Linked DNA regions of Homo sapiens. The gene in region 2 interacts genetically with the main gene of each other region. Each region holds a gene or a part of one and is shown on either strand. Other genes may lie near its edges.

Region 1 (3,753 bases), on a different chromosome or scaffold from region 2:
TGGGATTATAGGTGTGGACCACCACACCTGGCTGATTTTTGTATTTTTAGTAGAGACGGGGTTTCATCATGTTGGTCAGGCTGGTCTCGAACTCGTGACCTCGTGATCCACCTGCCTGAGCCTCCCAAAGCGCTGGGATTACAGGTGGGAGCCACTGAGCCTGGCCTTAAATTTAATCTTCATTAACATTTTCACTGTCACTTTCTTAAGTGCAGAGACAATCAGCAATAAGTGTAAACCTGCTTCGTAGCATTTGATCATTTCCCTGGTGTAAATACTCCAAAAGTGGCTGATTTCAAGCAATCAACATGACATACTGAAGGCAGAGTTGGGAAAATGTGCAGTAACACACCACTAAATAATATTTCCGCATACAGATACAATAGACATAAATAACCTTAAAAGCACAGATAATGATAAAACATAATAAAATAATTAGAAAATGAAGAGTTTTGAGATTTGTACCCTTTGTTTTTAATATAATCTTATTGTAAGTTTATGTAGTAAGACTTTTAATAATAGCAGTGTTTAATTTTTCTGCTAATTATATTCCTGAAATTTTAGCAACCAGTTACCATCAGTTGGCGCTAGCACACCACCGACTGCAGGCTTTACTGATGAGGAAACTGAGGCTCGGAGAGGCTGTCACGAACTTGCTGTAGTCACACAGGAAGTACTACCTAGGTTGCTCTAATTCCAAACCTTCTCCCTTCCATATGCCTCTCTTTAAAACATAACTGATCTACCTATATGTCAGCACCCAAACATCTTAGTGTGAATGGATTTATAGTTTGTTGAATAAAGTCATTGCTTTCCGGTAGGTGGGATGGGAAATCTGACTAGGCGAAAGAATAGGATGAAGGGAAAAAGAACATCTACTTAACAGTTCAGGATACGGCAGGATATTTTCTCTCCTGGGATTTGGGCAAGCCAAGATTTAACAACCAGCAATTGCCCAGCAACTGATAGAACTGGTAGAACATTCATTGTTTTTTTAAACGTTTGCCATTCAGTATTCCTTTTCACACATTTTCACTGTGTTAAACGAAAACGTTAAGACTTATCTCAGCAGCCACAGCAAAGAGCAAGTACTAACAATCAAGTGAGTTTCCAGGAGAAAAAAAACAAAGTTATCCCTCAATGCAAATACAACTCGGCCAAAGGTGTGGCCCATCCCTCTCCGCTCCACTATTTTCAAATAAGCCACCTCTGCCTTCATGGACTGCGAGCTAGTGACTCTAGGCTGTGACACCACTGCATCCCAGCTTCAAATCTCCCCTTGCAGGCAGTTTGTGGGGGAAATAATAAAATTAGCATCCTAACACTACAAGTCGTGAGACCGCTCAGGAACAATCCTAATTTGCATACTGGAACTCCTGTAGAAGATACTTTGAACCGCTTTAGATACAATAGGATCAGGTAAAACGGCGCTGCCTTGCCAGCCACTGCAGGTTTTCACCTGACACAGCCCCCAGACCCTGTCTACGAATCCCCCAGCTGGCCGAAGGGGCCGCGGCCGCACATGCGCAGTCAGTCCCGTTGGTTGTGCGCTCAGCCCCGCCCCCAGAGGCGCCGCGCTCCCTGACAGCCCGCGGGCGTACACACGCTGACGCGCAGGCTGCGGTCGCGCAGGCGCAGTCGGGGCGCCTTCCCGGTATAGGCGCCTTTTACCCCAGCGTGTCCTGAGTCTTTGGTTCGCGAAGTGCCGTTAGGCCAAGCAGGTGCTAAAAGCCCGGGGTCGTGGACCCCGGCCAGGTCTTAGCAGCATGGAGGCGCAGGGTGTAGCGGAGGGCGCGGGGCCGGGCGCCGCCAGCGGCGTGCCCCACCCCGCGGCCCTAGCCCCGGCTGCGGCTCCCACCTTGGCGCCAGCCTCGGTGGCGGCCGCGGCCTCTCAATTCACCCTGCTAGTGATGCAACCCTGTGCTGGGCAGGACGAGGCTGCGGCCCCCGGGGGCAGCGTTGGGGCGGGCAAGCCCGTTAGGTACCTGTGCGAAGGGGCCGGGGATGGCGAAGAGGAGGCTGGGGAGGACGAGGCGGACCTGTTAGACACTTCGGACCCTCCGGGGGGAGGCGAGAGCGCGGCTAGTTTGGAGGATCTAGAGGACGAGGAGACTCACTCGGGGGGCGAGGGCAGCAGCGGGGGCGCCCGGAGGCGGGGCAGCGGTGGGGGCAGCATGAGCAAGACCTGCACCTACGAAGGCTGCAGCGAGACCACGAGCCAGGTGGCCAAGCAGCGCAAACCGTGGATGTGCAAGAAACACCGCAACAAGATGTACAAGGACAAGTATAAAAAGAAGAAGAGCGACCAGGCCCTGAACTGCGGTGGGACTGCCTCGACTGGCAGCGCGGGAAACGTCAAACTCGAGGTATCAGACTTAGCTGAGGCCTGGGGATGGGAGGTGGAAGAAGAAACCCGATCTTAACGCAAACCGCATCTGCAGGGCCTGCCTCCCCACTTCCAAATGGGCCGGTTTGCAGTGACTGGGTTAGTGGTTGAGAATTAGAGTGTTTGCCCTAAATTAAAGTTTATACCAACATGTGCAAAGCAATAACAGTTCTGTTGAACTCATGATAGGTGCAGAAATTTCAGTAAAAATAATGTGACATCGGCAGAGCTGTCATAGATCTGGGATATGGCTGGAAGGACATAGAGTAAATGATCGGTCTGGTTCATCGCTAAAGGAGACTTAGGAACCTAGATGAAGTTGGTACTTCTGAGAAAGTCATCTCTTTCTGTTTTCACTACTCTATTCTCAGTATCCAGTTCTCAGTACCCAGTTCTCAGTACCTCTATTTGTAATACTCCTGTATTTAGTACTTTGTTTTTAGTGTCCTGTTCTGTTAACCCTCTTCCTAGTACCGTATTTTTAGTACTGCTATACTCAGTTGCCTGTCTGTAGTACCCCTGTACGTAGTACTCTTTTCTTACAACTCTGTTCCCAGTACCCCTATGTTTAGTCCCTTGTTCTCATGTTCTCACTACCCCAATACTTAATATACTTTGTTCTCAGTATCCTTGTTGTTAGTACCCTGTTCTCACTACCCCTTTTCTTAGTACCCCTGAGGGGGGAAAAAAAGGATGATAATGGGGTATAAGTCTCAAAAAACTTTTGGATTGTTTGATTTGAACTGAGTCAAAGGTAAAACCAGTGTTCTGGAGTTCGACTTCTGGGTGCAAATCCCTGTTGCATCATTTACTGGCCTTGTGGCTTGAATAGGTTATTAAACTCTGTAAAATGGGCATTAAAATCGTGTGTCATTCATAGTGTTGCTGTGAATATGTGAGCCATTCCATATTGAGGGTTCACACAGTGTCCAGCAACTGGCTAAAGTTTGCAAACCTTACCCATTATTATTGTCATTGTTAGTGGTATACTTTGAGGCTGTCACAAATAAGCAGATATTTCTTCTTGTGAGAGCTATATAATCCCTTAGTGTAGAGAAAAATTTAATTTTGTTACAAGTGATCCAAGCCAGGTATGGTGGCAAGTGCCTGTATACCCAGCTGTACTTGGGAGGGTGAAGTGGGAAGATTGCTTGAGACCAGGGGTTCGAGGCTGCCGTGAGCCTTGTTTGCATCACTGCATTCCAGCCTGGATGACATAGCAAGACCCTGTCTCCTTAAAAAAAAAAAAAAAAAAAAAAAAAAAATTTTTTTTAACTGCAAGCTGTCTTAGGGTCCTAGGATGTATTCTAAGTCTTTAAATTTCTTAGTTTCAGGCTGAACTTGAAGTGCTCCATCACTAAAATATT
Region 2 (3,653 bases):
GAATGAGAAATGCCTTTATGTATTTTAAAGATTATCATGTGGAAAATGACATCAACCTGCTCTGTATAGCTACAGAGAACAAAATAGGAATCATGTATGGAAGTTGAAAGAGTTTGTGTATTACAAGAAGACAACTATGAATAATTAAAGCCATTAACAGTGGAAAGATTGCCCTGTGAGACAGCAAGCCCCTTATACAGATTATGTAAAAACAGAGATTGTGTCAGGTTCGTTAAAAATGAGGTTTTCGCATTGGGTAGAAAGTTGGACTGGACCTCTGATACCTCTTTCAGCTCTTAAGGGAGTGATTTTTATGATAAATTGTGATTTGGAAAGGCTTAATGGAAAAACAGTTCCAGTATAATAAGTATAATAAAATAATAATAATTTCAAATTGTTGAGATTAGTGAAAGAAAAAATTGGGTATGGATAGGAAAAAAGTTTGCCCATTCAATTAAAAGGGAAAACATCAAGTTAATACCAATATGAGATGAAACTTAAAGACTGGACTTCACTGTCCATCTGAATTTCTCAGTAACCCTTTGTAGTTATTGTCAGGTTGACTGAACACCTTTACTACTTCCTATTACCCTCTCTCTTCTTCAGCATTTTCTCTTCAGCCCTGACCTCAATGCCCCTTCACTCATCTTTTTATTCTTGTTTCTTCCAATTCAGAATGCAGGAATTGTGGTGTATTTTAGCTCACATGAAAGGGATTATGAAGTCTAATTATAATAACTCTTTGTAAGTTACTATAGTAAGACATGTTAATAAAGCAAAGTAAATATGCTTTTCTAGAAGTTACAATTTTCAGATTTTTTGTATTGTTTTACTATAGAGTAACTTAGATACATTATTATAGTTAACTTAGATACATTATTATAGAGTTAACTTAGATGCATTATTTGCATCTGAGATGGTCTTTACTAATGATCATGCTCACCAGTGAATTTTAATGTTCTCCAGATCACTGTGCAGAAATACCCACAGAAGTTCAACTGAAGATGATGACTCATCTTCAGGAGAAGAAATGGAATGGAGTGATAACAGTTTGCTTCTAGCCAGTCTTTCTATACCTCAGTTAGATGGAACTGCAGATGAAAATAGTGGTAAGTAAACAAGTCTACTGTGAGAAATTGGTTATTCACGATCTAAAAATGTATTTGATTTTGAGGCTAGGCGCTCTGGCTCACACCTGTAATCCCAGCATTCTGGGAGTCCAAGGTGAGAGGATCACTTGAATTCAGGAGTTCGAGACCAGCCTAGGCAACGTAGTGGGACCCCCGTCTCTAAAAAACTAAAAAAATTAGCCCAGCATAGTGATACATGCCTGTAGTCCCAGCTACTCAGGAGGCTGAGGTGGGAGGCTTACTTGAGCCCAAGGGTTTGAGGCTGCAGTGAGCTGTGATTGCTCCATGGCATTCCAGCCTAGGCAACAGAACAAGATTCTGCCTCCAAAAAAAATAATAAATAAATAAATATGATTTTGAAACTTTAATCATACTTTCTATTGATTTTGAAACTGTAATCATACTTTCTATATAGTTGGCTAAGGGAGGCTATAGTGATGTTTCGTCCTTCAGGATTTTTTTCTTTTGAAAGAATTAGATACATGATTTGCTTCTCATTTCTAAAAGGATATAACATTTGTTGACCACTGAATTCAAGCTTTGAAAACTTTAATGTTTGTTGTGCAAGTAGAATAATAAACTGAAAAATATGCTCAGTTTATTTGAAGTGATAATGTAAAGCATATTATTTTATGAACATTTTTAAAGTGACAGTATTTTTCCCTTATGCCCCAAAGGAACTAAATAGTAATATAATCTATTTCTGATCAATGGAATATTTGTTTAAAATGATGACTAATAATTGTAACTAACTATATTTAGATTGAGTCATTAATGATAAGCATTACCTTTTTGTTAAGATAACCAAACTTAATTTGATGTAATTTTTTCATAGTGATAGCATTAATATCTTGGTGTGGGAAAATGTCTTAAAAATTAAAAGAGTAAAATGAAATAAACTGTTTTTCCCTCCTCATTTCAGACAATCCATTGAACAATGAAAATTCTAGAACCCACTCTTCTGTAATTGCAACAAGCAAGCTTTCAGTTAAACCCTCCATCTTTCACAAAGATGCTGCTACATTAGAACCCTCATCTTCTGCTAAGATTACCTTTCAGTGTAAACACACAAGTGCCCTTTCTTCCCATGTTTTGAACAAGGAAGATTTAATTGAAGACCTTTCACAGACAAACAAAAATACAGAAAAAGGTCTAGATAACTCAGTCACTTCTTTTACAAACGAAAGCACTTATTCTATGAAATACCCTGGATCTTTAAGCAGTACTGTTCATTCAGAAAATTCTCATAAAGAGAATAGTAAGAAAGAGATCCTCCCAGTATCTTCCTGTGAAAGTAGTATTTTTGATTATGAAGAAGATATTCCATCTGTTACAAGACAAGTACCAAGTAGAAAATATACAAACATTAGAAAAATCGAAAAGGATTCCCCTTTTATACATATGCACCGTCACCCTAACGAGAATACATTGGGCAAAAATTCTTTCAACTTTTCTGACTTAAATCATTCAAAAAATAAAGTATCCTCTGAAGGAAATGAAAAAGGAAACAGCACAGCTCTGAGTAGTTTATTCCCTTCATCATTTACTGAAAATTGTGAATTACTGTCATGCTCAGGGGAGAATAGAACTATGGTGCATTCTCTTAATAGCACTGCTGATGAAAGTGGACTAAATAAACTTAAAATTAGGTATGAAGAATTTCAAGAACATAAAACAGAAAAGCCAAGCCTCAGCCAGCAAGCAGCACACTATATGTTTTTTCCCAGTGTTGTTCTTTCTAACTGTCTTACTAGACCACAGAAACTATCTCCTGTCACATATAAATTACAACCTGGCAATAAACCATCCCGGTTAAAATTGAATAAAAGGAAACTTGCAGGTCATCAGGAGACTTCTACCAAAAGTAGTGAGACTGGATCCACAAAAGATAATTTTATACAAAATAATCCTTGTAATAGTAATCCTGAGAAGGATAATGCATTGGCTAGTGATTTAACTAAAACCACTCGTGGAGCTTTTGAAAATAAAACACCCACAGATGGTTTTATAGACTGTCACTTTGGAGATGGAACGTTAGAAACTGAGCAGTCCTTTGGACTATATGGAAATAAATACACACTTAGAGCCAAACGCAAGGTAAATTATGAGACTGAAGACAGTGAGTCAAGTTTTGTAACTCACAACTCAAAAATTAGTCTACCTCATCCCATGGAAATTGGTGAAAGTTTAGATGGAACTCTCAAATCCCGAAAACGAAGAAAAATGTCTAAAAAGCTGCCCCCTGTCATCATAAAGTATATTATTATTAATAGATTTAGAGGGAGAAAAAATATGCTTGTGAAGCTAGGAAAAATAGACTCTAAAGAAAAACAAGTAATATTAACAGAAGAAAAAATGGAACTATATAAAAAGCTTGCACCTTTGAAGGACTTTTGGCCAAAAGTTCCCGACTCCCCTGCAACCAAATATCCCATTTATCCACTAACACCAAAGAAAAGTCACAGAAGAAAGTCAAAACATAAATCTGCTAAGAAAAAAACTGGTAAACAACAAAGGACAAAT

Evidence for each region. Genes that interact genetically often act in the same process or in processes that back each other up.
Region 1: changes in REV3L (region 2) and RFXAP impair growth when combined (synthetic growth defect), as found in Homo sapiens cells (one large-scale study listed by BioGRID).

The regions. Positions count from the first base shown.
Region 1 is NC_000013.11:36,817,592-36,821,344, forward strand, and holds the start of RFXAP (regulatory factor X-associated protein), read left to right. Parts: upstream 1-1,630; 5' UTR 1,631-1,766; coding exon 1,767-2,366; intron 2,367-3,753. UniProt on the Homo sapiens protein: Part of the RFX complex that binds to the X-box of MHC II promoters.
Region 2 is NC_000006.12:111,375,157-111,378,809, reverse strand, and holds part of REV3L (DNA polymerase zeta catalytic subunit), read left to right. Parts: intron 1-966; coding exon 967-1,109; intron 1,110-2,052; coding exon 2,053-3,653. UniProt on the Homo sapiens protein: Catalytic subunit of the DNA polymerase zeta complex, an error-prone polymerase specialized in translesion DNA synthesis (TLS). Lacks an intrinsic 3'-5' exonuclease activity and thus has no proofreading function.